Linked DNA regions of Homo sapiens: region 1 is linked to region 2. A link means that fine-mapping ties the variant in region 2 to the expression of a gene that starts in the linked region. Tissue or cell type: whole blood. Region 2 holds a variant in brackets; the other region holds the start of a gene. All regions are shown on one strand. Distances are between the middles of the regions.

Region 1 (16,084 bases), 22 kb after region 2:
TTAACTGCATTTCCCTAATAACTAGTGATTTGGAGCACTTTATCATACGCTTATTGGCCTTTATTTTTCTTTGTAAAGCACAGATTTTGCCCAATTTTTAAATTGAGTTGTAGGAGTCTTTTTTATTGAGTTGTAGGTAGGAGTACTTCATATATTCTGAAACAACTTCTTTATCATATATATTTTAAATACTTCTCTAAGTCCAGGACTTGCCTTTTCTTTTTTTTTTTTTTAAGACCTTTTGGCCTGAATTTTTTTTTAATTTTTAAATTAAACACCAACGAAAACCTCATTTTGTCTAAGCAGATTGAAGAGAAAAAATGAGCTATACTGATAGAAGCTGAAAAAAAAAATTACTGTCTACACGACTAAGAAAAAGACCAAGCAAGTGCAATGAGTAATAAGTTATAGAAATAGCAGCAACTCCACAAGAAACTGATAAGCATCTGCCACTATCAACTCTATGCTAGATGCCAGGCATACAGTGAATGTGATGTGCCCACTTCATTCAAGAAGCTCATCAGGTGGAAGACCAATGAGGTATCAGTTTAAGTATGAGATGAATTTATAGAAAGCAGCATCCAAATGTTCCATTATTTCAAGAATACTCAAGAGTCAAAATACAATCTCCCCTATAGAAAACTTACTACAGAAGAGCACTATTTCCAGAACTTTCTGTGATGATGGAAATATTCTATATCTGTGCTGTCACATCACATGTGGCCAATGAGCACTTAAAATATGGCTAATGCCAGCCTGGGCAACATGGCGAGACCCCATCTCTACAAAAAATAAACAAAAAAATTATCTGGGCATGGTGGTGTACACCTGTAGTCCCAGCTACTGGGGAAGGAGGCAGGAGGATTGCTTGAGCCCAGGAAGTCGAGGATGCAGTGAACTATGATCGTGCCACTGCACTCCAGCTTGGGCAACAGAGTGAGACCCTGTCTCTAAAAAAATAGTAATAAAGGGCAGGGCACGGTGGCTCATGCCTGTAATCCCAGCACTTTGGGAGGCCAAGGCAGGCGGATCACCTGAGGTCGGGAGTTCAAGACCAACCTGACCAACGTGGAGAAACCCCGTCTCTATTAAAAATACAAAATTAGCCAGGTGTGGTGGCGTATGCCTGTAATTCCAACTACTCGGGAAGCTGAGGCAGGTGAATCGCTTGAACCCGGGAGGCGAAGGTTGCAGTGAGCCAAGATCACACCACTGCACTCCAACCTGGGCAACAAGAGTGAAACTGTCTCAAAAAAAAAAAAACAAATTAAAAAATATGGCTAATGCAACTAAGGAAATGAAACATTAATTTTACTTATTTTCAATTAATTAAGTAGCTACATGTAGCTAGTGGCTACTTAATGAACAGCACAGATGGAGTATGACAACCCATCTCACCTGGCTCTACACTTTGTGGGGTCTGGAGATGCCTCATGGATGCATCATAAAGGCAACTAGCCAGGTACGGTGGCTCATGCCTGTAATCCCAACACTTTGGGAGGCCGAGGCAGGAGGATCACTTGAGGCCAGGAGTTCGAGACCAGCCTGGGCAACATAGTGAGACCCCCTTCTCTAGAAAAAATGCACTCCAACCTGGATGACAAAGTGAGGCCCTGTCTCGGAAAAAAAAAAGAAAAATAATTAAAGGAGCAACTAAAATAGAATTTTAAATGTTTGTCTTACTTGTTCAGAAAGAATTTAACATGACTTGCAAAGACTCACAGCAAGATAAATCACTTGTTAAACAAATGTGAAATACGGTGATATCTACATTAAACAAAAAGTATAAAACAAATGTGAGAAAAAAGAATTATCTTACACAGAGAAGAAACAGCTGAGGAATATCTCAATACTGATATTATATGACCATAAGCAATATGTTTAAATTATTTTAGTGACCAAGACACTGTTTAAGAAGTGGGTTACAGAATGCATTTAATACACAGCATGGAGAATTAAGACTGGTGTATTAATGATGTATTGCTACATAGCAAATTAGCCCAAAATTTAGCATTTTAAAACAATAACATTTATGATCTCACACAGATCTGAGAGGCTTAGGGTGTCTCATGAGGTTGCACACGTGGCTGAGGATGTGACTGGAGCTCAGAGGACCTGCTTCCAAGGTAGTTCATCACATGGCTGTTCAAAGGAGGCCTCAGCTCCTCACCACACAGCTCTCTGCATATGGATGCTTGAGTGTCCTCATGACATGGCAGCTGGCTTTGTCAGAGTGGGTGATTCAAGAAAGAGCTAGCAAAGAGGAAACTACGATGCTTTTTATGACCTAGTCTGAGAAGTCGCACACTGTCACTTCTACCATATTCTACTCTTCAGGAGCAAGTCACTAAGTTCAGCCCACACTCAAGGAGAAAAGAATTAACCTCCTCCTCTTGAGAAGGTCAGAGTATCAAAGAATTTGTGGACATATTTAAAATTCCCACAATGGGATGTAAGAATTTCTTTTCACTTGGGGGCTGCTAAAATTGTAATGAGATCCTGAGATCCCCTTCTCCGGAAACCCCAAAATTAGAACTGTCTTCCTGAAATAGCTGCAATTTTTGTTTCTGATAAGACAGGAGATTCAACACAAATGGATTCTTGGTCACTTACAACCTTGTTATATTTTAATAACAGGTCCTAAATAAATGGCATTTACTATGCATAAACCACTATGCTACACATATAATATTACAGATCCTCAAAATAATCTGTCAAAGTGGCTACCATCATCCCGTTTTCAAGGAAAGAAACAAGAAGCCTCACAAACTAAACCAGGATTCACATCCAGGTCTCCATGGTTCCAAAGCCACTGCTCTTCCCACTGCATGACACTTCTATTACTCAAGCTACCACTGACAGAAGTTTGTTTTGTAGCATGGAAGAGCTCAGAAGGACCACCAACTACATTATGTCTATGATTCTTCAAATATAAAATGGAATCCTAGAGAAATAATGTATTCCACCAAAAGAGAAGAATCTCTTAATTACTTTCCTCACTGTTTTTGCTTTTTGTCTGCTGTTTTCTATTTGCTACACTGAGGACTCATTTTGCCTGGCTTTTTGTCTCGTCCACCTTCTAACACCTTGGCCCATCCTCCCCCTGGATCCATCTGTGTTCCTGTTCATACTAGACAACAGCCCTATGTCCTCTCTGAAGAGGAGACCCCCAAGGACAAACACTGGCTCCCTGAGCATCAGAACTGGAGGGATCCTCTCAGAGGAGCAGGAGTCTGGGCCCAGCCCCACAAGACCCTTATAATTTGTCCAAAGACAAAGAGAAGCAGTGACAGAACCAGGACCAGAAGCCTGTCCTTATAAACCCTGATCATGAGTTCTCTGCACCACCACACAACTGTGTCTTTCCATGCCAGGACCTGCACATCAGTTCACCTTTCCTGGTCTCCAATCTCTGCCTGGAACAAGGACACTGTCCCAGAACTCAGATGAAATCTGGGAAGCATCCTCATTTCCTCATTCTCCCCCCCACAATCCAACTGGTCCGAGTCCTGTCCATTCAACCTTGTATCTCTCAGTATTTATTCTACTCATCCCCACAATGTCCTAATTTAGGCACTTTTCTCTTTCACATGGGCTTCCGCTACCACTCCTTAAAGGTCCCCCCTGTCTCTAGCTTCGTCCTCTCATTTATTCCCCACAATGGAGGCGGAGGCGGCCAGGAAGATCTAACAGGCAGATCTTATCGCGCCACTCCCTTGACAAAAACCATCAATGGTTCTCTGTAACTTCTTCCCTCACAAGAGATAGAGTCAAGAAGGGCCTTCTAAACTGGCTCAGGGGCTTGGATTTTCTCCAAGTTATAAAAAGGGAACTGATGTCTGACTAAATGTCTCTTCTGTACGAGAAACCTTATCTATGTTACTTAATTGTCTCATCGGTTTTGCAAAATTAACATATGGCCCCTTTGCAGACACTGTTCCCTCTAGTCCTCTCATCTATAACCGAGCACCTGAAATAACCTTAAAAAGCCTCTCCTGGCTCGCCAATCTTCCAACATATCCACATGCTCCCCTGTGCCACCACCTCTTGTATAGATTTCCATTACAATGTGTTTATTTAGCTATTTCCCAAATATGCCTGATAAAAGGGATCACTCACATCATTCCTCTCTGTACCCTCAGACCCCAACAAAAAAATCTGTTTCATAGTAGGTGCTCAATAAATGGTTGATGACTGGGTTATTAACTAAAAGGAGGGTCCATCATGATACAGAAATGCCTAAGCATTAAATCAATAAATACATCTCCCCCAAAGGCCCATAGAGCAGTACCAGGGACTTTTATTAATAGCATTCCTTCAGCAGCTCCACATTTCCCAAAGTGATGTGAGGTAAAGGAAGTGCTCAGACCAGGTGTCTAGTTTAAAGAGAGGAAGTCCTCTAGTGATCACCTAGGCTGACCCAAGTCTCAGTATTTCTTTCTTCAATGTTCCCTCTGCTTTGTACATACATACCCCCACAGCTGTGTTATCTTGTACATACTAGTACAGGAGAGAGCAAGGACTTTCCATTTTCCTACCCCATCACCTAGCACAATAGCTGATACATGGGTAACTACCAATCAATGTGTTAAGTGATAATATCAGCTACATTTAGTGCTATGTACAGGTATGTCCTAAGGATTTAATATGCATTATATCTCATTTACTCCTTATGACACTATCACCAGGGAGGTACTGTTCAACTTTACTCCCATTAAATAGACAAGAAAACTGAGGCCCAGAGGACAGAACAAGATCAAACAAGCATTGACTGAGGGCTTCGCACATTTTATATTTTCACGTACTTTATTTCATTTATTCCTCTGTACAATCCAGCAACTAAGCTGTGTATTATAGTCCCATTTTTAGACAAGAATTCTAAGGCCTGGAGAAACTGCACAGTAACACGCAGCTTGCAAGGCCAGGAACCAAATCCACAACTGTCGACTCCTGGGCACCTTCTCTTTTTGCCTGGCTATCTTGCCCCTCAGTGGCATCAGGACTGGACTGGTCTCTCCAGGCCCGTGCTCTTCCACACTGCACAGAGCGCTGCCCCCAGGGCAGATGGTGCAGCCTGGGCTCTAACGCCGAGGAGAAAGGAGTGCCAGTCCCACTCCATGCCTAGAGACTGCCATCCCCGCAACTGCCCAATTCCCGCGTCCGTAACACGGGTCTCTCCCGCTAAAACACACGCTTTATGACTCTGGGGGCCGCGTGGGTCTTGCAGCCAGGGCCTGGCGCAGCCCTCGCACATGACAGGGGAGGCCTAACCGTGTGTTGGGTCAACATCACCGGCACGCCGCGGCAAGGGCTCCCGGGATCGCGGCTTCGCACCCGGACTGGCTGCGGTGGGGGAGCGGGGCGCCCGCCCCAGGCCCCGCGGGGACCCACGAGCACGAGGCGGTGCCTGGGAGTCGGGAGGCCTGGGTGGCGCTCAGGCAGCCCGCGCAGGCCTCGCCCTCCGCGTCTCCAGCGAGGCGGGGGCGGCGCCTGGGTCCAGGCCGGGGCCGCCGCGGGAGTCCCGGCCGCCCTCCCCTGCCCGGGGCAGCCCCCCGGCCGGACCCGTTACCGGTTCCGCTGCTCTTTGAAGAGCGCCGTGAGCGCGCGCAGGGCCTCCAGGTCTTGGATGGGCGCCGGCACCATGACGCCCGACAGCCTGGCAGGCGGCGGCCTGGGCGCCGCCATCTTGCCGCTCACAGCTGGGTCGAGCCTGACGAGGAGGAGGAAGGCGAGGAGGACGAAGGGGGAGGATGACGAGGAGGGAGGAGTAGGATGGCGAGGAGGAAGGGGGAGGCCTCGCCCTACACAGCCCTAACCGCCGCCGCCGCTGCAGCCCGCGCTGCCCTGAAGCTGCGCCGCCGCCGGAGAGCTCTAGGCTGAGCCCAGACTCGCCTCAGGCGGGAGGAGGAGACGGCGCCGCGGGGGAGGGGGCGCCGGCGGAAGTCCCGCCTGAGGGGAGGGGGCGCGGCGGAAGTTCTGGGTGAGAGCGGGGAGGGATGCTGGGGGTGATTGACTGGGAAGCGTCGCAGACGGGGCTCCTCCGAGGGGAGGGGACGCCGGGGGGAGGGGGACCTGTGTTGATGTGGCCGTAACAGGGTCTCGGTCTTGGGAGCGGGTATCGGGAACCAGAGGTTCACCCTGAGAAAGAGGGGCGCGTCCTATAGGAGGGTGCCCGCGGACAGAGGGGTCTCCCCCAGGGGAGGGGATCCGGGGGGTAAGGGGCCTGTGGAGGGTGGGGCCGTAACAAGGTCTCGGTCTTGGGAGCGGGTATCGGGGACAGAGGTTCACCTTGAGGAAGAGGGGCCCTCCTGTGGGAGGGGGCCCGCAGACAGAGTGGTCTCCCCCAGGGGAGGACATTCTGGGTGGAGGGGACCCTCTTGGGAGGAGACGCTGACTGAGGGTCTCGGGAACGAAGGGGGCCGGGCAGAGGCTCCCACTGCTAAGGCTGAAGACCTTGATCCCACTGCTCAAGTGGGTTGATCAGTGCCCCCGCCCGGGTCCACTGGAAGCTGGAGCGGTCTGTCACTAGCTTGCAAGTCTCAGGCCCTGAAAACGCACTTCCCAGTACTTACTGATCATTGCTGATCAATACCAGACCACTTACCAGGCACTTTGCCTCTAGTGAGTATACATTGCTCCAGCTCCTCAAAGCCTTAAAATACCGTTCGAAGTCAAGAAGCTAAGTTACACAGCAATAGGGTTAGAATTGTTTTTTTTCCTAAGGGAAATGAATATATTTCACAGGAATCAGACAAGGCTTCTCTAGCTGGTGTTGATAACTCACATATTTTCTTTCCACTGCCCTTTATTACAGTGTATATACTTTCAACAAAAATTGTTGCTAAGCCCTGCGCTAGGTGCTGGAGATGTAAAGATTAATAAAAGACAGTTCCAAACCTGAAGGAACCTCACAGACTATTGAGAAGGAGAGAAGCAAACATAACTGAGTATAGTTGTGAACTGCTATAACTGTACAAATTGCTGTGGGACCACTTAAAATATATAAATACATACCCTTTACATTCTGCTTGGAGGGTAGGAGTGTGCTTATAACATGGCGCTTTTAACATTCTTTGCTAAATAAAATGTAAAGATAACAATAAACACCACCAGAGTATGCAGAAAAAGTGAATCCTGGTGGGGCATGGTGGCTCATGCCTGTAATCCCAGCACTTTGGGTGGCCAAGGCAGGAGGATTACTTGAGCCCAGGAGGTCGAGGCTGCAGTGAGCTGTGATCACACCACTGCACTCCAGCCTGGGTGGCAGAATGATACCCTGTATCAAAAAAAAAAAAAAAAAAAAAAAAAAAGGAGGGAGGGAAATGAATGCTGCTGCACAAGCAAGTTACTTGATATTGTCATTCAGTTTACCCATTTAATTGAGTATGTATTTATTCATTCCACGAATATTGCGGTGTACTATGTGCCAGGTATTAGATCACTTATTAGTAGCAGTGCTCAAGACAATGCAAAATGTTTAACACTCCTTAAGCTAACAGGGCAAAAATCTCTTAATTTTCCCTTGAGGAGCACAGGATAGTAAAATGTACTTGTTATGCACCAAAATCCTGATCTTTAGGCCAGACACGGTGGCTCATGCCTGTAATCCCAGCACTTTGGGAGGCCGAGGCGGGCAGATCACTTGAGGTCAGGAGTTCAAGATCAGTCTGGCCAACATGGCAAAACCCCCTTTCTACTAAAAATTAGCCAGGCATGGTGGCGGGTGCCTGTAGTCCCAGCCATTTGGGAGGCTGAGACAAGGGAATTGCTTGAACCTGGAAGGCACACGTTGCACTGAGCTGAGATCATACCACTGCATTCCAGCCTGGGCAACAGAGGGAGACTCTGTCTCAAACAAACAAACAAAAAAACCTGGCCTTTAGTTTTCTTATTCTCAAATGTAACATTCCCAGAAAAACATTCCCTATAATATTCATACTTCTTGCCTGGAATATTGTAATATATTCCTGATTGGTCTTTTGGCCTCTGCTCTTGCTTCCTTACGTTTTAGATCGTTTAAAAAATATTTCAACATTTAACTCTGCCCAAAACCCTCTAAGGGATTTCCATTTCACTCAGAGTAAAAGCCAAGTTCTTCCAATAGAAAAGCCCCTAAATGACCTGCCTCCTCCTTCGCCATCACCTCCAGCCCCTGTGGGCTCTAATCACATCTACTAGCCTCTTCCTCTTCCATTGTGCTTCAGCCATACTGACCTCCTTATTGTCCTCTGTCTATTTAAAAGGAATAAGCTGAGGTAAAATCAATATAAAGAGTTTATTTGGGCCAACGTGAGCATTGCAGTCCAGGACACACATCCAAGTTGCCTTGGGGAGTGCTCTGGAGAACGAAAGAGAAGCTCAACTTTTTAAAGAAAAAAGGACGAATCAGGAGAGAGGGTGATTTAAAAGGTTGTTTGTCATGAATTCTCATTGGTTTAAGAAATAATGTTGGTTAATGATTGGCTGTACAATGTTGAACTATAGATTGTATGCCATTGTGTAGCTAGTTGACATCAGTTCGTCTAGAGGCCAAATAGAATGTGGCTTCAAGAGGTAATTAGGCCAGGCATGGTGGCTCATGCCTGTAGTCTCAGTGCTTTGGGTGGCTGAGGCAGGAGGATTGCTTGAGCCCAGGAGTCTGAGACCAGCCTGCACAACATAGTGTGAGACCCCCCATCTCTACGAAAAAATTTTTAAAAAATTAGGCATGGTGGTACATGGCAATAGTCCCAGCTACTCCAGAGGCTGAAATGGGAGGATTCATTGAGCCTAGGAGTTGAAGGCCTCAGTGAGCTATTACCACACCACTGCAGTCCAGCCTGGGTAATAGAGAGAGACCCTGTCTTTAAAAAATAGTAATAATTCCTTTTGAAAAGAGGTAAGTATTCAGCTCAAGGAGGAGAGACATGATTGGTGTTTCATTCCAATGCTTCTCTAGGCCCGATCATTTAAAGGAGATCATATTCCTCAGATAAAGTTTTGTTTTTCCTTTTTTTTTTTTAAATCCCATAACTCCACCAGGAAAAGAACTCTCCTGCCTTAGGAGTTTGTATATGCTGGTGTTTTTGTTTTTGTTTTTGTATAGAACAACTCCTCACAAACATCTCCATGACTTGCTTCCTTATTTCCTTCAACTACCTGTTCAAATGATCTTTTAACAACCTTCCTGATCAATCTATTTAAAATTGTAACAGGCTACCCAAATTCCTGATCCCCAGGAATTTTCCGCATAGCACTTAATACTTGATATATAACTTACTTTTCTATTTTGTTTATTGTTGCTTATCTATTTCACTTACTACTAGAATGTAAGCTCTACAAGGGTAGAGATTTTTGTCTCTTTTGGTTATTTTTGTATCTCCAGCCCAGCACCTAGAAAAAGACCTACTATGTGGTAATTGCTCAATAAAAGTTGAATTAATGAACAAAGAATCTTTTTAACTATATCAGCAGAGGCCGGACGCGGTGGCTCATGCCTGCTTACGGTTGTAATCCCAGCACTTTGGGAGGCGGAGGCAGGCAGATCGCCTGAGGTCAGCAGTTTGAGACCAGCCTGGCCAACATGGTGAAACCCCCATCTCTACTAAAAATACAGAAAAAAATTAGCCAGGCATGGTGGCAGGCACCTGTAATCCCAGCTACTCAGGACGCTGAGGCAGGAGAATCACTTGAGCCTGGGAGGCAGAGGTTGCAGTGAGCTGAGAGCACGCCATTACACTCCAGCCTGGGTGACAGAGCAAGACTCCATCTCTAAATAAATAAATAAATAAATATACATATATATATATATATATATATATATCTGCAGAAAGGAGAAAGGAGATAGCATGCCTCTAGAAGAAGTGCAATAATCCAAAAAGTACAGAAAAGGAGGCTGATGGAAAAAGAAGAAAAATTATAAGGGAAAAGATTAAAACAGAGAGATTAACAGGACAGACAAAAAGTAGAAATACGCATAAGAGAAACGAAAGGAAATTAAACTGGTCAAACAGTGGATGTTATTGACTGCCCAAAATCGACTAGAGGATTTCAACCTTGACTGAATTGACAGAACCAAGTTAATATTTCACTAGGGCTAAATGACATTGTTAATGTTATATAGCTGTTTGACTTAGACAAACCAGATGAACATGCCACCATGTTGATGTACGTGAATTCGACTTCAAATGAAATTTGTGATATAAATTTGTACCTTGAGCCCACTGCAGAAGAATTGAATCAGCAATGACTCAGTAATCAAGAAGGAAGTAAATACAAAGAAAAGAAAAGGAAGGAAGGCAAAAAAGAAAATCAGAGAAGAAAGTAGATGAGGTGCAAGGCAAAAACAGATTTGGACCAAAGTGCATATGATTTTGGCAAGGAAAAGAAAGAGGAAGTAAGTGAATACTGGTAAAGAGAATAGAAGATGAGGCCGGGTGCGGTGGCTCACACCTGTAATCCCAGCACTTTCGGAGGCCAGGGCGGGTGGATCATGAGGTCAGGAGATCGAGACCATCCTGGCTAACAAGGTGAAACCCGTCTTTACTAAAAATACAAAAAATTAGCCAGGCATGGTGGTGGGCACCTGTAGTCCCAGCTACTCGGGAGGCTGAGGCAGGAGAACGGTGTGTACCTGGGAGGCGGAGCTTGCAGTGAGCTGAGATCACACCACTGCACTCCAGCCTGGACAACAGAGCGAGACTCTGTCTCAAAAAAAAAAAAAAAAAAAGAGAGACTGAGTAGAAGATAAGTGACAAGTGGATAGAAAAATGTGTGCTTCTGCTGGCTTTTCTGTTGGAAACATCCTTCTTAGCATCTCTGCCTACGATGCTCTTGCTAGAAAGCTTTTGTCATATATCACCAACTCCACAAGATCTCATGTGTTCTTCAGAAGAATCTCTGGTCAGCCTGTGCCTCTCTTTTGGCACTGACTTTCCATAGTCAGCCTGTGCTATAGATGTGTGTTTATGCCCTCCTCTTCCACATCTGAGGTCCCTCAAGGCAGGGATTTTCTCATCTTCATCCCAGCCCTGTGCTTAGAAGCAATGCTATCAATATCTGTTGAATGGAAAACTCTGGAGATTGAGAAAAAGGAGAAAAAAATAACAGAGTAGTGTACTTGTTCAGAGCAGGGATTGGCACACTATCACCTATGAGCCAAACTCTTCCCGCCACCTATTTTCGTAAATAAAATTGTGTTAGAAACTGTCATAGTCATTCATTTACATATTCTCTGTGGCTATTTTGGCACTAAAGTGGCAGAATTGACTTGTTGCTACAGAGACTGTATGGCCTCCAAAGCCTAAAATATTAACTATATGGTTCTTTTTAGAAAAGGTTTGCCAACTTCTGGTAAAGAACATGAGCTCTGGAGTCAGACAGACCTGGGTGATGTGAATCCCTCTTTTATCTCTTAGCACCTGAACTTGGACAAGTAACCATCTCTTTAAGCCTTTTTTTTTTCATTTGTAAAATGGAATAGTAATAGCACCTATTTAATTAAATTGTTGGGAAGATTTGATGATAGTCAATTCAGAGTCTGTCATATATTTAGCTTAGTTCAATACGTGTTAACAGCGAACTGTGTGGTGTAAAAGTGAGAAAGTAGAAAGAACGAAGTGGGCAAGGAGATCAAAAGCTGTTAGGTAGTTGGGCAAATGAGAAACAGTAGGAAACACGTAGGAAATCGTGAGTACGGTCAAGATATAATTGGTAATAAGTGACTGACAATAGACTACCGGTATTTGAGGTGATGATTCTGATGTTAGTAATAGTTGCCTTGTGGGGATCAATTATTTTTATGTAATTTGTAAAGTTATTAAGCTATTCCTTATGATTGTTACCAATCCATTTTACATTTTATTTTTCATATTTCAATTTAACCAGAAGATTTGAGCATCTATCATGGACTATATTAGAACCTAGTCTTATGAAGATGAATAATATAATACCTTAGTCATGAATAACCTCTGAGTCTATTAAAGGAAAACAGAAATATATACTGATAAGATAGCATAATAAATCATGTCAGAAAAAAGATGTATAAAGAGCTAAGAAGCTGGAGAGATGAAGAAATACAACTAGAGAAACCATGTAAGCTGAATCTTAAATAATTGTATGAGCACTAGACAAACAAAGGTGGAAATACATTCCAGAAAATGAAGCACCAAAATATAGCCTCAAACCAGCTGACTTTATATATGGTTCTACCAAACATGGAGAAAAGATGTAATCCCTGCCTTATACAAGAAGCTTCATAAAACAGAAAAAGCTTCACTTCTGGTAATGTCACGCCAAGTTATTTAAAGCTATCCTCTGAATGAGAAAAACTTTTATTTTAAACCCAAATGAAATATTTCAAAAACCTCTTTGTCACCTGGTTGATCCAAGGAACCAAAACACCTGAATTGGGATTAAGACAGACCCAGAATGGTGGCACATTTAGACACATGACAGAAGCAAATGAAAACCATCTTTGGAAGAATGTGCCATCCTAAGCATCAAATTATTTCTACAAATACTTCTCAAATAGAGTGAACAACACAAAAATAACTCACTCTACAGGGAAACCAGAAATTATAAGAACCAGCAGAAGCAACATACAACAGAAACTGATCCACAAAAACTTAAGCTATTGGAATGGAACATGGCAATGACACAACAGGTTTACTATGTTCAAAGAAATAATTCGGCCAGGCGCAGTGGCTCACGCCTGTAATCCCAGCACTTTGGGAGGCTGAGGTGGGCAGATCATGAGGTCAGGAATTTGAGACCAGCCTGGCCAACATGGTGAAACCCCGTCCCTACTAAAAATACAAAAAATTAGCCGGGCGCGGTGGCATGCACCTGTAATCCCAGCTACTTGGGAGGCTGAGGCAGGAGAATTACTTGAACCCAGGAGGCAGAGGTTGCAGTGAGCCGAGACCACGCCACTGCACTCTAGCCTGGGCAACAGAGTGAGACTCCATCTCAAAAAAGAAAAAAGAAATAGTTCAAAAGTCCAAGCAAGGTATTGAACTATAAAAAGTGAAATAGTGTATTTATATAATAAATAAATAGAAATTCTGGAACTGAAATTAGAAATAACACAGTAACAACTCAATTGATGGGATTAAAACAGGTTAGAGAGACCTAAAGAGAGAATAAATGAACTGGAAGATTTAGAAAGAAACTATCCAGAATGAAGAAATTAAAATACAAAAAATACAGAAGAGCTAAGAGATGCAGAAAATAAGTTGAGAAAGTCTAACACATGTAATTGTAACAGAGGCAATACCTAGGAGAATAGCTGAGAATCTGCCAAAACTGATGAAAGATTCCAAACCACAGATTCAAGAAGCTCAATGAATAGAAAGCAGAATACACGAAAAGACATCTAAATATAAACACACCATATATTCACATCTAGTGAAGTTATGCAAAAAGACAAAGACAAAATCTGATAAGAAGCCACAGGGGAATAAAAAGACAGTTTATTTTTAAAGGAGTGAGGATTCAGTAAGCTGTATCCTCCACAGAAACACTGGAAACCAAAATAGTGGAATGCTATCTTGGATGTGCTGAAAAATAAAAATAACTGCCAACAGATCCATGGTAAAGGAAATACAAAAGAGTGTGAATTAGAGACAAAAACAATCCCAGATGGAAGATGAGAGACACAGAAAGGAATAAAGAAGACTGAGAATGGTATTTACCATCCGCTTCATCTAAATGAACATCCAAAGTACAAAACAATCATAAAGCAACAATGTCTCATAGGGTTTAAAATAAAAAATTAAAATATTCATGACATGGCTCTGCTCCAAACCATCATAACACTACCTGGGACTTTTGCCTTCTGCTGTCCCAACTAGTGACCCCAGGACTCTCAAAAGACCACCTCTGTAGGAACAGGCCCAGGTTTATCTCCTGCCTAAGGACTTCCTCTGCCTTATACTTCCCAGCAGCCAAGATCACAGAAAGTCAAAGGCCAGCAAAGAAAGAAAATCCATTGACAGGAAAGAAGGGAAATCCATTGAGAACAGTCTGTAAAAGCCAGAACGGTTTTTTGTGAAATGAGCTTTGTCAAGTCAATCAGTACCAAACAATATTTGGATATTATTGGCACTTTGTGCTCCCTCTGCCTGAACTGGGAATTCCTCTATTAGTTTTGACATTATCTGGTATTGAACCTCACTTATAAACATCTGGTAGAAAACTATGGAAGAGAAACTTGCAAATGCCATTCTGAATGGGGCCATCATTGAGACAGTGGTTTAGGCCAGGACTATTCAAAGTGCTCTGCGGACCAATTCATGACAAACTTCCACTTCTGGGTAAGATGGACGAAGACCCTACTTGGTGACCCCCACACTTATGTACCCCATAGTAAATAATCATAAAACCTAGATATACTACAAAAAACAACCACCTGAAGGGCTTGAGAGTGAACAGACGCAGACTCTGATGAGGAGTACCTCCTCACTTGGAGGAAGGGAGATGGGGAGCTATACAAGTAGGTTCACATCTCTGTAGCTTTTAGCCTGGGACTAATTGTAGCACGTGGATGTGCACAGCAATGGTTGGGGGCACATGTGCAAAACTCTGCATTCTTTCTGGCCTGGGGAAACATAAAAGTAAATGTATGAAAATTGAACACTGAAGAGAATGGGAAAAATCCCAAAAGGGAAAGAGCCAGAGAGGGTGCTATGCTTTGAATGTTTCTCCTGTCCAAAACTCATGTTGAGATTTTAATCCCCAATGTGGCAGTATTGACAGGTAGGGCCTTTAAGGAGTGACTGGTTCATGAGAGCTGTCCTCATGAATGGATTAATCTATTCATAGAATAATGGATTAATTGGTTATCTTGGGAGTGGGTCTGGTGGCTCTATAAGAAGAGGAAGAGAGACCTGAGCTAGTACCCTCAGCCCCCTCACTATGTGATGCCCTGCACTGCCTTGGGACTCTGGAGAGAGTCCCCTTCAGCAAGAAGCCTCTCGCCAAATGCAGCCCCTCAATTTTGGACTTTTCAGCCTCCATAACTGTAAGAAATAAATTTCTTTTCTTTATAAGTTACCCAGTTTCAGATATTCTGTTATAAGCAGCAGGAAATGGACCAAGATAGAGGGGATCCCCAAATTAATTATATCCGTATAGCTGACTGCCCACTTAATAAACCTTATCATGTGGTGTAGACCCAAAGCAGCTCAACTAAATACAAAAGATCTGACGCAAAACTGGAACTGCCCCTGAAGAAATAGAGTTTTCAGCCCAAGCCCACATAAGAAAATTGTCTATGAAAACAAAGGAAACAACACTCCACAGAGGAAAATAACAGAATCCAGAATCCCCACAGCTTACTATTAATAGTATCAAAATACAATCCAAAAGTTACCTGAAATACAAATATGAAATTAGAGAACATTCTCAAGAGAAAAGAAAATCAAATCTGTCCATGAGATGAACTAGATGTGAGAACTGACAGATTTTAAAGCAATGATTATAACTAAATTAAATGAGGTAAAACAAAACATGACTTCAGTGAATAAAAACCTCAAGAGAGAAAATGATCAATCTCAGCAGAGAAATAGAAATGATTAAAAAGGGCTGGACATGATGGCTCACGCCTGTAATCCCAACACTTTGGGAGGCCAAGGCGGGCAGATCACTTGAGGCCAGGAGTTCAATTATGAGCACCTGGCTGAAAAAATATATATTTTTTAAACAACAAAGAGAAAGAATATCAGGGACCTGTTAGAGGATATCAGATTTTCAAATATTAGTGTAATTGCAAGGCTAGAAGGACAGGAAAGAGAAAACAGGACCCCCCAAAAAAAAGTATGTGAAGAAATAATAGCCAAAATTTTCCAAATTTGGTGAAAGGTGGAATCTTGCAAATTTAAGATGCTAAACTAACATCAAACAAAATCAACATAAAGAAGCCTATGCTAAGACACATCACACCAGTGAAAGTCAAAGAAAGAGAGCAAACAAACATCTTGATAGCATCAACATAAAAATGACATATACAGAAAAACAATTATTGATTCATGACTGCTTCTTATCAGAAACCATGGAGTCCAGAAGATAGTGGAACATTTGTAACCTCCTGAAGGAAAAAAAAAAA
Region 2 (16,084 bases):
CTTAGGAGGCTGAGGCAGGGAGAATTGCTTGAACCCAGGAGGTGGAGGTTCCAGTGAGCCAAGATTAAGCCACTGCATCCAGCCGGGGAGACAGACCCAGACCCTGTCTCAAAAAAAAAAAAAAAAAAAGGAAAGAAAAAGAAAAAAAAAAAGATTTCTACTGAATATTTTAGAATATTAACACTCAGATCTGTATAAAACTGAACATGCAAAAAGCCAACAGTATAGGTTGATCTGAAAACCAACTGATCCAACAACTCATCAGGCACATAAGATTAATGCTCAGGATCAGAACACAATTCTGAAAAGGAAAAGGCTTAAAGATGTCCCAGACACAAGAAAAGAAAACTCCAGACAGGTACAAATGACAGTTTACTTTACCAAACAGCTTATCAACTGATCTTTATGTAAATACTGCAAATGTTATGAAGACCCTCAAAAATCCCAACATTATTTTTACAGAGTAAGAAAGAATAAAGGCCAAAAACAACACCAATAACTCAATTAAAATAACTCATGCTTGTGTTTACATAAAATTTGATGGGCATAATATATTCGTCATACCACTGCAATTATTCCCTGAAAATAATACTCTAAATATTATTTTGACAATGTAATTACAGTTCTTACCTCAAGTGTGGTAACAAAAAACTGGCACACATACCCTGCTAAAAAATCTACCTAGAATAAAGTTCTCACAGAGAAAGAGTCAAAAAAGTACAGGCGCTTTGTTAGGAACCAGAATACTTTTTAAAAGATTATTTGTATTAGGTTTGAACTAACACACCATAAAATTTTTTCTAAGTTTCACTGTTGAATCCAAATTTCATTGCTGAATTCCAACTAAAATTCGGTCATTTCACTAGCTGCCGTTTTCAAGGTGATGAGAAATATTACTTCCTTTCCATTTTCCTTCCTGCCTCAATAATATCCTTCCAATAACATCTGTGGCGAAACACAAGCTATCTACTAAATAGGAACACAACTGAAAAATTAAATAAGTCCTGAATAAATAGAGAGATGTTCCATATTCATGAACTTGAAAACTCAATAGTGTTAAGATGGCAATTCTTCCCCAATTGATCTATAGATTCAATATTATCCCAAGTATCTACAATGTATAGAAAACCTTTACAACTCTACAAGAAATAGACACAAACAGCCCAATTGAAAACTGGACAAAGGACTCAAATAGACATTTCTCCAAAGAAGATTTACAAACGGCCAATAAGTACGTGATCATTTAGGAAATGCAAATCAAAACCACAATGAAGTACCCCCACTTCACACCCACCAGGATGACTACAACACAGAAAGAAAGAGTCAGCAAGGATGCAAGAAATGGGAACATTCGTATGGTGTCGGTGAAAAGTCATATGATTCAGCTGCTATGGAAAAGTCTGACAGCTCCTCAAATGGTAAGCAGAGTTACCATATGACCCAGCAATTCTATTCCTAGGTATACACCCAAAAGAAATAAAAACAGATAAACAATTGGATGTACCAGCATGTTCACAACAGCATGACTCATGATAGACAAAAGGTGGAAACAACCTAAATGTCCAACAAACAATGAATGGATAAACAAAATGTGATATATCAAAACAACGGAGTATTATTCCACCATAAAGAGGAACGAAGTAATGATACACACTACAAGGTGGATGAACCTTAAAAACATTATGCTAAAGGCCAGGAGCGGTGGCTCACGCCTGTAATCCCAACACTTTGGGAGGCCGAGGCGGGCGGATCACAAGGTCAGGAGATCGAGACCATCCTGGCTAACACGGTGAAACCCCGTCTCTACTAAAAATACAAAAAATTAGCTGGGCGTGGTGGCGGGCGCCTGTAGTCCCAGCTGTGCGGGAGGCTGAGGCAGGAGAATGGCGTGAACCCCAGGGGGCGGAGCCTGCAGTGAGCCGAGATCGCCCCACTGCACTCCAGCCTGGGCGACAGCGAGACTCTGTCTCAAAAAAATAAATAAATAAATAAAAACATTATGCTAAGTGAAAGGAGTAAGACACCAAAGGTCACATAATTAATTCTATGATTCCATTTATATGAAGTATCCAGAGTAGGTAGATCTACAGAGACAGAATGCTAAGTAGTGGTTGCCAGGGGCTACAGGGAGGCGGAAAGAGAGCAGCTGCTCAATGAAAACGGTATCCTTTTAGGGTGATTTTTAGGCCGGACGCAGCGGCTCACGCCTGTAATTCCAGCACTTTCGGAGGCCGAGGTGGGTGGTTCACCTGAAGTCAGGAGTTCGAGACCAGCCTGGCCAATGTGGTGAAACTCCATCTCTACTAAAAATACAAAAATTAGCCAGGCGTGGTGGTGGGTGCCTGTAATCCCAACTACTCAAGAGGCTGAGGCAGGAGAATTGCTTGAACCTGGGAGGCGGAGACTGTAGTGAGCCGAGATTGTGCCACTGCACTCCAGCCTGGGCAACGAGAGCAAACTCCGTCTCAAAAAAAAAAATTTTTTTTTTAATTAGGTAGAGATGGTAGTTGCATAATACTGTGGATGTACTAAATGCCACTCGATTGTTCACTTTAAAATAGTTAACAATATGTGAATCTCACATCAATAAAAAACAATTAAACTCATACAAATGCAACTACCTAAATTAAGAACAACATTTAATACAGCTAACATGTAACAGGTCTGTAAGAATCTGCCCTCTCTGCCTAGTGAATATGAGTGAATAGCCAAGCTAACAACCAAATAACCAATTTACTCCTCAATGACAAACTGGTTCATAAAAGTAGTTTCAGATATCTGCTCCGTTAAATTTTTTCTTAGGTCATCTACCTGCTTCAGTGGAAAGTAATCCTGTGAAGGATGAAATAATCTTTTACCATATATTGTAAAAACTAAATACATCTTTTGTAGCACATTTGGGATAGAGCAGAAAAACGAGATACTGGACTGACGGGGACATGGAGTCAAAAGAAGATATTTTTAAATGAAAAATGGGAGGGCATATTACTTGCTGATGAAAATGATGGAGTAAAGAGGAAAAAAACAGAGGCTGCCTGAGAGCAAGGGGATAATTTCAGGAGAAAAGCTTCTGCGTGGGCAAGTGGCGATGAAATCCAGCACATGGTGGAGGGGCTGGCTCCATTCTAATAGTTATTTAATCACAGCATTTGTACAGCACTTCCCCTTTGCTTCTTTATTTAGCATATATCATTAAAAGAGAAACCTCCTTCCGCCCACCACAGCACAGCAGCTCTGGAGCGCCACACTGCCCGCCCCATCAGGATCACCAATTATAAAACACAGTACATTCTCAACTTTCTTTCTCAATTACTATACCACACAGAGACCTCAAAATAGCTGCCCTTCCAAGTGACACTGTGAAACACGGACTTTACTGCTAATTTATAATTCCCCAATTTTGAGTACTGATGCTTCCCTTTTATTATAAAATAGAGCTACAGAAGTATCTTTAAATATATAATATCGTAAAAACATTTCACAACTAAATCCTACATCCTTTCAATTTCTTGAGATTATTTTAAAAACTGATGCTCAAAAAAACATGGTGATGCACTTTGTCTGTAAATTCTTAAAGGAAGTAATTAATTTTTAATTACCATTTCCTAAAGGAATACTTCAAAATCAAATAGCAAGATCCAAGAATTTCTAGCAAACTGAGTTTAAAATGAAAACACTAGGAAATCACAGAAATTAAACCAAACCAGGCAGTGCTCTAACACGCTAATTTAGCCTATTTCACCTGTGAAAAAAGACCATCACCTCTAGTTCTTGTCTATCTACCAAGAGAAGCACACATATTAACATCAATAGAAATATGCCTCACGTGGCCAGGTGCGGTGGTTCATGCCTGTAATCCCAGCACTTTGAGAGGCCGAGGTGGGTAGATTATGAGGTCAGGAGTTCAAGACCTGCCTGGCCAAGGTGAAACCCCATCTCTAATAAAAAAATACAAAAAATCAGCCGAGTGCGGCGGCAGGCGCCTGTAATCCCAGCTACTCGGGAGGCTGAGGCAGGAGAATCGCTTGAACCCGGCGGGAAGGCGGTGGTTGCAGCGAGCCAATATCGCACCACTGCACTCCAGCCTGGGCGACAGAGTAAGACTCCATCTCAAAAAAAAAAAAAGAAATATGCCTCATGTTATATGCAAAGTACAGGCATTAAAACTGTATATAAAACAATTTGTAAGTCAAATAATATTTTAAATGCAACTGGAGACTTCTCATTTAAAGGTTATATTCATTGAATTATAAGGTAAAGACGTTATTACAATGACAATTTTTTTTTTTTTTTTTGAGGTGGAGTCTCGCTCTGTCGCCCAGGCTGGAGTTCAGTGGCGGCAATCTCGGCTCACTGCAAGCTCTGCCTCCTGGGTGCATGCCATTCTCCTGCCTCAGCCTCCCCAGTAGCTGGGACTACAGGTGCCCACCACCATGCCCGGCTAATTTTTTGTATTTTTACTAGAGACGGGGTTTCACCGTGTTAGCCAGGTAGATCTCCTGACCTCGTGATCCGCCCACTTCAGCCTCCCAAAGTGCTGGGATTACAGGCGTGAGCCACTGCGCCCAGCCAACAACAACAAAATTTAACCTATAATTTAGTACATCTAACTTATCCACCTGGAAATTTACATTAAAATTTTCTGGGGTTTTGTTTTTTTTTTTTTTTTTTTTTTTTTTGAGACAGAGTCTTGCTCTGTCACCCAGGCTGGAGTGCAGCGGCGTGATCTCAGCTCACTGCAACTTCCACCTCCCAGGCTCAAGCAATCTTCCTACCTCAGCCTCCAAGTAGCTGCGACTACAGGCGTGTGCCACCATGCCCGGTTCTTTTTTTTTTCGAGACAGAATTTCACTCTTGTCACCCAGGCTGGAGTGCAATGGCACGATCTCGGCTCACTACAACCTCCATCTCCTAGGTTCAATCAACTCTCCTGCCTCAGCCTCCTGAGTAGCTGGGATCACAAGCATGCGCCATCACACCCAGCTAATTTTTGTATTTTTAGTAGAGAGGGGGTTTCACCATGTTGGCCAGGCTGGTCTTGAACTCCTGACCTCAAATGATCCGCCCGCCTCAGCCTCCCAAAGTGCTGGGATTACAGGCTTGAGCCACTGCACCCAGCCTTTGTATTTTTTTGGAAACGGGGTTTCACCATGTTACCCAGGCTGGTCTCAAACACCTGAGCTCAAGCAATCTGTCCACCTTGGCCTCTCCAAGTGCTAGAATTACAGGCATGAGCCACGGCACCCAGCCTACATTAAGATTTTTTTATCAAATAATTTAGGTTTACCCATAAAGTATTTCAATTCCTGGCACAAAGAGATCATAAATTAAAAATCTACGTTTTTTTTTTAAACATTATGTTAAGATAATAACCACTGTCCAAAGGAAAGATGTTGATGCTAGAAGAACAAAGACCAAAACCATTCTACTAATGAGTCTAAAGAAGTGTGGTGTTTCTCTTAATCCCAAGTCAACAACCGTTAACAATCAGAGCTAAGTTCCATTTTCATCACACTAGATACTTGACTTAGACACTTAACATGTGGTTCCCCTCAACGGAATGTGAGTTCTCTAAGGACAGACACTTTTTGTCTGTTTTGGTCACTGTTTGAATCACACCCAAAACCTGGACCAGGGCCTGTCACATTCATAAATATTAAAAGTCTTACCACAGACTGAATGGCTTAAACAACAGACATTTATTTTTACACAGTTCTGGTGGCTGGAGGTCCAAGATCAAGGTGTCGAGAGGGCTGATTTCTTCTGAGGTCTCGCTCCTTGGCCTGTAGATGGTCATCTTCTCCCTGTGTCTTCACATGGTCTCTACTCTGAGCATGGCCATGTCCTAATTTCCTCTTCCTATAAGGATACCAGTCATATACCCTCATTTTACCTTAATTACCTCTTTAAAGATCCTATCTCCAAATTCAGTCACATTCTGGGTATTGGGGGTTAGGACCATGCTATGATCTGAATATCTGTGCCCCTCCGAAATTCCTATGCTGAAATCTAATCCCCAACTTGCTAGTATAAGATGGGGCCTTTGGGAAGTGACTAGGTCATGATGGTGCAGCCCTCGTGAATGGGATTAGTGCCCTTATAAAAGGGGCCCAGAGAGCTTGTTTATGCCTTCTGCCTTCCACCTTCCACCACAGGAGAACAAAGCAAGAGGCACCATCTATGAAGACGAGAGCAGCCCCCGCAAAACACCCAATCTGCTGGTACCTTAATCTTGGACTTTCCAGCCTCCAGAACTGTAAGCAATACATTTCTGTTGTTTATAAACTACCCAGCCTAAGGCATTTTGTTATAGCAACTGGAACAGACAGACTTCAACATACAAATGTGAAAGGAACAAAATTCAGCCATTCAGGAAGGGAAGTTGATACAACTTTATAATTCTTTAATAATTCACTATTAAAGTTTCCCTATCTCATGAAATACAGAACATGTGTTTCAATGAATGATGTTAATACTCAAAGTACTGGTTTTGAACCCTTTATAAAGATATAAATAATCCATGAATTATATTGCATGCTACCTGTCAACAGAGATTCCTGTTCCACTCGCAGTTCACGAAACAGAAGAATCAAATCAACAGCAACACCAATCGTATCCAAGTTCCTGGGTTTTTTAAAAAAGACAAAATTAGACATGTTCATTCATTCATATATTGTCTATGGCTGTTTTTGCACTACAATGGGAGAGCTGAGAAATCTGACAGAGATTACAAAGCCTAAATTATTTATTATCTGGCTCTTTACAGGAAAAATATAGCAACCCTAGCAGTAGAGGTTATATTTACATGCAGAGCTAACTGCTTCCAACAGCTTTCTTTGAGTACTTCCTGAAGTTTCCCATGACTCAGATTCTTTGCTTTATTGTATTTTACCCCATTCCATGCATTCTTGGCAAAAACAGTCCCAGTCCACACAAAGTGCAAAAGATGTAAAAAGATCTAGGCTTTAATAGCATCACACCTTTTGATGAACTCTTTAACGACTTAAAGTAAAACATCAGAAAAATATGTACTAGTTGCAATCTGAATCTTGACTGGCTCAGAAATACTGGCCTTAGTTAAGCTTGGCCACAAAGTCTTTACTAGAATCTTTGTAGTATTTCTAACTAGAAAATTCTTTTCTGAAAATTGCTGCCCTAAATGGTTGAAATTTTCCTTTAAAAATCAACAGTGAATAATAATACAATCCTAGAAGGGAAGAGGCAGAAAAATTAACACCCTTAAATGTTCATTTTCATTTCCGCCCAACCATAAGTTGCATGCAATAAAAAGATATCACAAACAGCACAGCCCTTGCTTTGCTGGCCCTACCAAAAGACCACCGATAACTTACTTGTCATAGTATTTATTTTTGTAATGTT[A/T]GAATTTTTATAGTTTGCATATATTACTCAAAAAAGAAAATAAAAATTGACTGCTTTGAAAGAAAGTATTAACATAAACTTGTGTTGTACATTCATTCCTGAGGCAGAGGCAGAAACATTTAATGTTTACTGAGCACACAATGTGCATTAGGCATTTACATAAGTAATCTCATTTACACCCCATAACCAGCCTGTTTGGAAGACATTGCTTACCTAGTTTTACAGAGGACAAAACTGATACTCAGGAAGACCAAGTCACCTGTCCAGGGTCAAGATGGAGCAGTCATCCACAACAAGACCAGTGTGTAAGGCTCAGGACAGCAAGGGTAGACTGCATTTTTTTTTTTGAGACGGAGTCTCACTCTGTTGCCCAGGCTGAAGTGCAGTAGCCCAATCTTGGCTCACTGCAACCTCCGCTTTCCCCGTTCAAGTGATTCTCCTGCCTCAGCCTCCAGAGTAGCTGGGACTACAGGTGTGTGCCACCACACCCAGCTAATTTTTTATTTTTAGTAGAGACAGGGTTTCACCATGCTGGCCAGGCTGGTCTCGAACTCCTGACCTCATGATTCACCCGCCTCGGCCTCCCAAAGTGTTGGGATTACAGGCGTGAGCCACCGCGCCTGGCCCAGACTGCTTTTGAGCTTAAGCTCAGAACAGTAAGGGCAGACTGCTTGTTAAGCTTAAGCTTTAGAGTCAGATGTCTGGATATGGAGAGAATGTTCCCAGCCTCTCTCACTTAACAAGTGACTCTCAGACAAGTTATTTAACCTCTCCAAGTTACAGTTTCATCTTTTGTAAAAATGAAAAAATTTCTTGAGTTTGTTCTAAGAATTAAAGAAGATACTACAAGCAAAACCCTTGGGACAAAGCCCAATGCCGAAGGCAGGCTCAACGAATGCTCACTCCCTTCCCCACCAAGATTAGCCAAGCACAAAGGTGTATCTGCCAGCCACAGTCAAAAGTTAGTTCTACGGCTCTCCTTTCCTTCCCCATCACACTAGAGCACCTTGTGACTGGAAAAGGACAAAAGAAACTAGCCTTCTGGCCAGATGCTTCTAGCATATAACTAGTTATGTTTTAGAATGTAGACTATTATTATCAAGATTATTGTTGTTTCTATCCATTTATCCTCAAATGGATGGCAGGTTTGGTTTAGTATTGAAGTTACACGACTCACTTTTTACCCTCTCTCCTTTGATCTTAAAAATCTCATTAATCATATCAAAGCCTCGGGTATATGTGTCTAACCGAAGGGAGTCCCTCAAGTGGCTTCTGGACCAGCCCAAGCTTACCCGTCACAGTGGTGACAGGGAAGCCTGGAGGCTCTGTCTACATCCAAGTCCAGGAAGGAAAGTGAGCATCCTGTTTGTGGCTTCTGACTTCAAGTAAAAATTTTTAATAAAAAGCAGGTTCCACAAAATCAAAGAAGAAAGATGCTGTGTTCTGGGAGGAGACGGTAACACGTAAAAGCAAAGAAGAGCACTGGACAGCTCGCCTGCTCATGTTTTAACTACTTTTAAAAATGTGCGCATCATAAAATAGGTGGAAGCAGAGCTTGGAACTTTACATGATCTTTAGGAAAGACAGGTCATCTTGTAAATTTACAAAATATGCTTCTTGTCCAAACACAAGAGTAACAAATTAAAACATTAAAAGTAATTAAAACATTTACAACCTGAGGTCAAGAACTGCATATAAACTTAGGCAGGTAAAATCTAGGAACAAAGACTCAAAATCAGCTTCAAAACACTATGAAGAACCAAATACCTCAAAACATGTGATAAAAACAAACAAGAAATCTAACCCCTAATGTTAAACACACTCCATTATTTTATACACTAGTCAGAGAGACTCCAATGGCAAGGCCTGTAGAGGGCCTCTCCCAGCAGATGTAAAGGGCAATCCTGCAATAACAGTGGGTGATACTATCATGCCAGAACAACTTTTTTTTTTTTTTTTTCCCTGAGACAGGGTCTCACAATGTGGCCCAGCCTGCAGCAATGGCATCATCTCAGATTACTGCAACCTCTGCCTCTCCCTGGCCCAAGCAATCCTCCCACCTCAGTCTCCTGAGCAGTTGGGACTACAGGTGTGCGCCACCATGTCCAGCTAATTTTTTGTATTTTTTTTGTAGAGACAGGGTCTCACCATGTTGCCCAGGCCGGTCTTGAACTCCTGGACTCAAGCAATCCTCCTGCCTCAGCCTCCCAAAATGCTGGGATTACAGGCATGAGCCACCTTACCCAGCCCAAAACAACTTCTAACAGATAAACCAAATGACAGAACCAGCATGCACATATACAAAGAAACAGAATCCAAGGTACGTGTGTAACTACCTGATTGAATTCTGGTTCACAGAACACTCTATGCAAGCATTGCGAAGACACCTGAAGCATTCTGTTATTAACTGCAGACTGGAAGCCAGGTTTTCCACTTGGGATGGATCTCTGCAGGCAAGCTCAACAGCATGAGAAGATTTCTTTAGGATATCCAGAACTCTTTGGAAGATAGTCCTGGGTGCTGTTTCTCTGAAAAAGGATAAAATTATCACGAATCAGAAAAAAAAGATTATGATTTCCAAATGTCCTATTCAGAAAACTGCTTTTATCTACTATTGTGGGGAGGTACGCTACGTTTATCTGCTTTAGCTCCTTAATTTACAACACCAAATAAAAGATCTACACATATTGAGCACTTACTATGCACCAGACACTGTTCTTGTCACTTCTCATGTATTATCTCAGTCTCTGCAACAGCCTTATGAGGCCAACACTGTCCTCTCCATTTACAGATAAGGTAAGTGAAGTAGAGATGGTAAGTAACTTGCACAAATCACTCAGCCAGTAACTGGCAGAGACACAAGGCCAAGTGAAGCACTCTGGCCTGAGCACTTCCACTACCCATGACAACCCAAATCCCAGTTCCAGTGACTGCTCATGCTTATGGATCTACCCTGAATCAGAACAGAGTATCTTTATTTAATGTTCTAGACAGAGAATATATTCTGGTCCTCTGTCACCCAATATGTAGCTAAGTTCAGTTATAAGAAACAATATTCCTGTAGGACAAGGATACTATCTACTCTGTAGACACAGTGAGGCTGACAACACACACACCAAACTTCTACAGTCAACTACATAGATGGGAGAGAAAGGAGAGGGGGAGAATGTAAAGTGTGCCTGTTCTTCCACCAAGAATGTATGCCCAGGGAGAAAGATGAACCTGTGGTTGTACCCTCTGGGCATCTCAGTCTCTGCGTGCCTCTCATGCCAGGAGTACTGCCTGCACTGGCTATCATTCCAGAGCTCTAAAGATAAGAATTTTTTGTGCAACATTGCACCTAAATGCAAGCCAACTTCCTCATTCCATAAATCCCCTAAAGAAACAGCAAATCTCTTTTAACGTTAGAAGGAAAGTTGCCACATTGGACAATTTAAGAGATTCTATAAATGCCAAATGATTCAGACCATATGAATTTTCTCCTTCTGCTCTCGCTGTAGATTCACAGTGCCCTACCTTTCACCCTTGGATTGAGCCAGACCAGCAGGGAGCCACATGTTCATTCAGAACTCTGGACACTGAGCTGCCCAGGTTACAGAGCTGCTCAGTTGCCGCAGAAGACACCTATGGAAGCCCCTTTTCCGGGGGCAGAGGAAACACGTCTTTCCTTGAACTTCAGTACCATGGCTTCTTATACACCAAGTGATGTGTGTTTTTATCTTACGAACAGACAATAGAACTCACATTATTTATTATGTTTTCTCTCTGTCGGGGCCTTTCTTAAGTCTGGAGTCAAATTTATGACCCAAACAACATGAATCCTTACTTTTTCTATCTGGCTTTTCCACTACCCCTAATTTCCCCCCTTATCTTTTTCTCGTATTTATTTTTTAAGGTATCTCAAACTTGGTTTTGAAAGAGGCAGAGTATAAATTAATTAAAAACTGGGAAACTGCACATAAAATAATTTGTCTATGTCTCCCCCAGTCAGCCCTGAGTGTAAATAATGAAACTTTGACTCAGTGTCTCGGCAACTGAGTGACCAAATTAAGAAATGAAAATTCAAGGGTACAGCACTAATCTTGCCTCAATAAACTGTATGAAACAAGTACATAAGCCATTTTTTAGTGACAGCATTGCCGTAAGAAGAATGGAAGAATACTCACTAACACTCTTTTTTTTGAGACGGAGTTTTGCTCTGTCGCCCAGGCTGGAGTTGCAGTGGTGCAATCTTGGCTCACTGCAACCTCTGCCTCCTGGGTTCAAGCAATTCTTCTGCCTCAGCCTCCCGAGTAGCTGGGACTACAGGCACACGCCACCACGCCCGGCTAATTTTTGTATTTTTAGTAGAGACAGGGTTTCACCATTAGCCAGGCTGGTCTCGAACTCCCGATCTCGTGATCTGCCTACCTCGGCCTCCCAAAGTGCTGGGATTACAGGTGTGAGCCACTGCACCTGGCCGATTCACTAACATTCTTAAGGTAGCTTTAAGGAGTACCAAATATATTGTAGACACTCATCAGCTAAGAAAATAACCAGGAGTTTAAAACACTATGAAGAATGCTAAGGCTGATCACAATTTCTAGGACAAAGAACAAAACTAATCACCTCTATTTGCCCCATCTGCATGAAGTTTTGAAGCCATTTATTATTTAATGCTATAGTCAAGTAAAAGTAGAGCTCTGCAACTTGAATAAGCTTCAATAACGCCTCTCTTTTCCTACTGAGATGACTAAGAATGTGTATTTACAGCTGTAAGAAAGCAGCGAGAATTATTTCTTTCACCTGATCCTTTGCCGTCTGCCTCTTATATGGGAACCACCTTTCCCCCGTGAATGGTCTTCCCTGAAGTCATTCCTTGCAATCGTAACATCTGTTTTACTCAAAATTGGTATCTAGCACAGCAAAAGCTTTGGAATCAAACTATGGTACAGACTAAACAAGACAGAAGAAAAGCAATATTCTTAAAGAAAATGGGAAAAATGATTTCCCGACCATAGAATAAATACTAAGTTCATGAACTATGTTGTGAATAATTCCCAATGCTACATGGTAATTTGTTATATATGCACCATGCCCTTATAATAATTTTAACCAAATGAAAAGCATTTAACTGAGCTAAGGCCAACCAAAACATTCCTGAAATCCAAATAACTATTAATAGCGACTAAAGAGTAATCATGACAGCATCTATTTGGCACACAATAATTCGCGTTTGCAGTATAAAGAAAAAATAATGTGGAGCTGTGATCACTGTCATATGCTCTCCCCAGGTTGTAAACCATGGATTCCTGAAAACCCCCGATTTCGCCAATCTTCTGTCTTTGCTCAAACATATCTCACCACCAGAAGAAAGTCCTCTCCAAATCTCCCAATCCTCTGCCTGGGAGAAACTTACATCTCCTTTTTTTTTTTTTTTTTGAGATGGAGTCTTGCTCTGTTGCCCAGGCTGGAGTGCAGTAGCGTGATCTCAGCTCACTGCAACCTCCACCTCCTGGGTTCAAGTGATTCTTCTGCCTCAGCCTCCTGAGTAGCTGGGACTACAGGTGCATGCCACCACGCCCGGCTAATTTTTTTGTATTTTAGTAGAGACAGGGTTTCACCATTTTGGTCAGGCTGGTCTCGGTCTCCTGACCTCGTGATCTGCCCGCCTCGGCCTCCCAGAGTGTTGGGATTACATGCGTGAGCCACTGCGCCTGGCCTGCATCTCCTTTCAAACCTTTGGGAAACTCAGACCTGGAGAAACTCCTCCACTTTTCCAGACAAACAGACTCCCTCTATGAAGCCCTGGAGATCTGTTCATAAGACTGGAATAACTTGTCCACATCAGATAAGATTTATATAACCTATCTCCCCGGCTAGACTGTTAAGTCCTTGAAAAATGGAGACTATCTTATTCTTTTCTGTATCTCTAGGGCCCAGAATTGGCACCCATTAATTGAATTTGTTCAAGTTTTAAACAGTGATGAGACTGTTTGCACACTCAAAAGTGGCCCCTGACTGCATCACAGCCTTGCTATGTAATCCAAGCACTTACAGAGCTTGTGCTCAGAGCCAGGAATCAAGCCTGACATAGGCAGTGAAATCAGTACCCTTTGAGTCAGCAACAGAAAGGGGAAAGTGAGGCATCAGCTCAACCCTCCCTTTCCCATTAAGAAATCCATATAATCTCTACTCAGAAACTTAAAAACGTGTCAGATTTTAAGATGTGAATATCATATAGATATTTTATGACTGCTGTTAAGCAAACATCGAATTTCTCCTTTCCCATTAAATGATACAGTGGATAAGCTTGAGGGTCTGGGAGGAGTTATAACCCAATTAACTGTATTTTAAATTTCTTAAGAGCAAAGAACATGTTTTAGATGTGTTTCCTTTTATAAATGGTGTCAGTAAAACTCTTCCTCTAGAGTCATATAATAAATATCTATAGCTTCTATTCACCATATTTTTATACAATATAATATGTCAACAACTTTCATCAGATGAGGACAAAGAAGCTTTTATTCAGTAACAGTAAATACTATGAAAGCATTTAACTCTTCTATACATCTTTACCTTCTCTACAGCCTTGAAAGAAAACTATTTGGCATTACAGATCCAGAATAGTCCTAGTATACTCTTGTCTGCAAAATCTACGTTCACTGTCAAGACAATGCAGCTAAATATGTGTAATGATTAACGACAATGAAATAGTAAAGATCAATCACTCCAATATTACAAAAGTTATTAATAATAACTGCTGTCATTTCTGCTTTAACCAAACTAACAAAAAATGTACAGCGACTTTAAAAAGCTTAGCTACTTCATTCACAGAAGGCGGAAAGTACTTACAAGGACAATTAAAATTCAACCGTTAGACATTCCTATTACAAAGGAATGCATACCCTGAAGACAATGTATAAATGAAATGTTACATTACAGAACCAAAAAAATCCTTTGAATTATACAAAAGGTAGAATTTCATTTCCCTCAAGTTTGAACAGATCTGTAGGGTTTAATCTTGGCAAGTTCTGTTTGAGTAAAATTAAAGAAAACTACCTGTGATTATATGTAACAGGTTAGATAGGTCTAATATACTGTATGCACACACATTTTACAGTTCAATCATCAGGTGGGACCTCCTACTGAAAAAAAAAAAAAAGCTACATGCTAGTCATTGTAATGCTACAACTAAGACCTTCATACTTGTTAAAAGATTTATTCTAATACCTTAGATTTACTTAAAAACTGGCATATGTGGTTTAGAGTAGTTTAACAACTGCCAGTGAGAAAAACTATTAAAATCCACACAAGTTCACAGATTAAAACAACAATCACTGGTTGTTATCTAAAACCATAATCTTGCTGATTTGACTGGGCAGGATTGAACAAAAACAGAAAATAAAAACATCTGTATCTCCTGCCACAAACAGCCTAGGGTAAAATTTTGAAATCTGCGCAGAACTCAAAACTTCTTTTCACACTCTTCTCTCCTCTTCTGTCACATCCAGGATTCCGAAGCCGTCCTGACAACCCAGACCAATCCATTTTGCAGGGTCACAAACTTTTTCTGTAAAGGGTCAGAGAGTGAATATTTCCAGCTCTGATGGCCAAACAGCCTCTGTCACACTCTCAACTCCCCCAGTGCACAAACGCAGCCACAGGAAACACCTAAACAAGTGAACATGGCTGGGCTCTAATGAAACTGTTTGTGGAAACTAAAATTTAAATTCATATAATTTTCATGTGTCATGAAACTTTATCATCTCCCCAACCATTTAGAAACGTAAAAAACCATTCTTAACTCATGGGTCATAAAAAAAACAGGTAGTAGGCCAGATCTGGCCATGGTCTGGCAACCCCTGCTTTAAAGGGCTCCAAACATACCAGTCCTCTCCCCACTCCCCAAAAACCACACACTTCCTCTTTCCCACTGTCCTCATCACATTGAAAATTCATCTTTCATCAGAACAAACGCACTGTGCTAAATGAAAGGAACTAAGGCGGCCAGGCGCAGTGGTTCATATGCCTATAATTCCAGTGCTTTGAGAGGCAGAAGCCAGGAGAGTTCAAGACCTGCCTAACATAGCAAGACCCTATCTCTACAAAAAAAAAAAAAACAAAAAAACTTGTTTTAATTAGCTGGGCTTGATGGTCTGTGCCTCGTAGTCCCAGCTACTTGGGAGCCTGATGCAGAAGGACTGCTTGAACCCAGGAGTTCAAGGCTATGGTGAGCTATGATCACAACACTGCACTCAGGCCTGGGTGACACAGCGAGACCTTGTCTCTAAGAAAACATGAAAAGAGAAGAAAATGAAAGAGAAGCTAAGAAAAGGTGAAATTAGCACAGAGGCAGAAAGTCAACCACTGGAAAAGACAGCCCAAGAGCAGAACTGTGTATACATGGTAACTTGGTAAATGGCATCTATCAATAGCATTAAAGACCTGGGGAAGATGGACTGTGCTCGAAGAGGTGCTGTAACAACTGTTAATCTAAAAAGAAAAAAACTGAATTGGATCCTTACTTACACTACCCAAAAAGTAACTCCAGGTGGATTTAGGAATTACATGGAAGACAAAATTGCAAGGCTTTGGAAGAAAATATAAGGAGAATGTCTTTACATGCTTAGAGAAAGATTTTGTACATAAGATATTATTTAAACCTTATTTTAAAAGTAGTATTTAAGCACAGATCCAAAGAAGGTGAGGGAGCCAACTATGC

What was found.
Region 1: ATXN10 starts here. The variant in region 2 is fine-mapped to the expression of ATXN10 in whole blood (INTERVAL, PIP above 0.99).

What each region holds. Positions count from the first base shown.
Region 1 is chr22:45,661,665-45,677,748 of GRCh38, reverse strand. It overlaps ATXN10 (ataxin 10), which reads right to left and starts at 5,915. Exons shown (of 12, transcript NM_013236.4): 1 at 5,570-5,915. The coding sequence starts at 5,685. RefSeq lists silencers at 5,283-5,612, 5,943-5,992, 6,053-6,242.
Region 2 is chr22:45,683,536-45,699,619 of GRCh38, reverse strand. ATXN10 (ataxin 10) reads right to left here. Exons shown (of 12, transcript NM_013236.4): 2 at 9,717-9,908; 3 at 6,542-6,624. Among named protein-coding and RNA genes, the nearest start is that of ATXN10, 20 kb to the right of the region's middle. RefSeq lists an enhancer at 3,099-3,198. The variant A/T (reference allele first, on the strand shown) is at 7,381.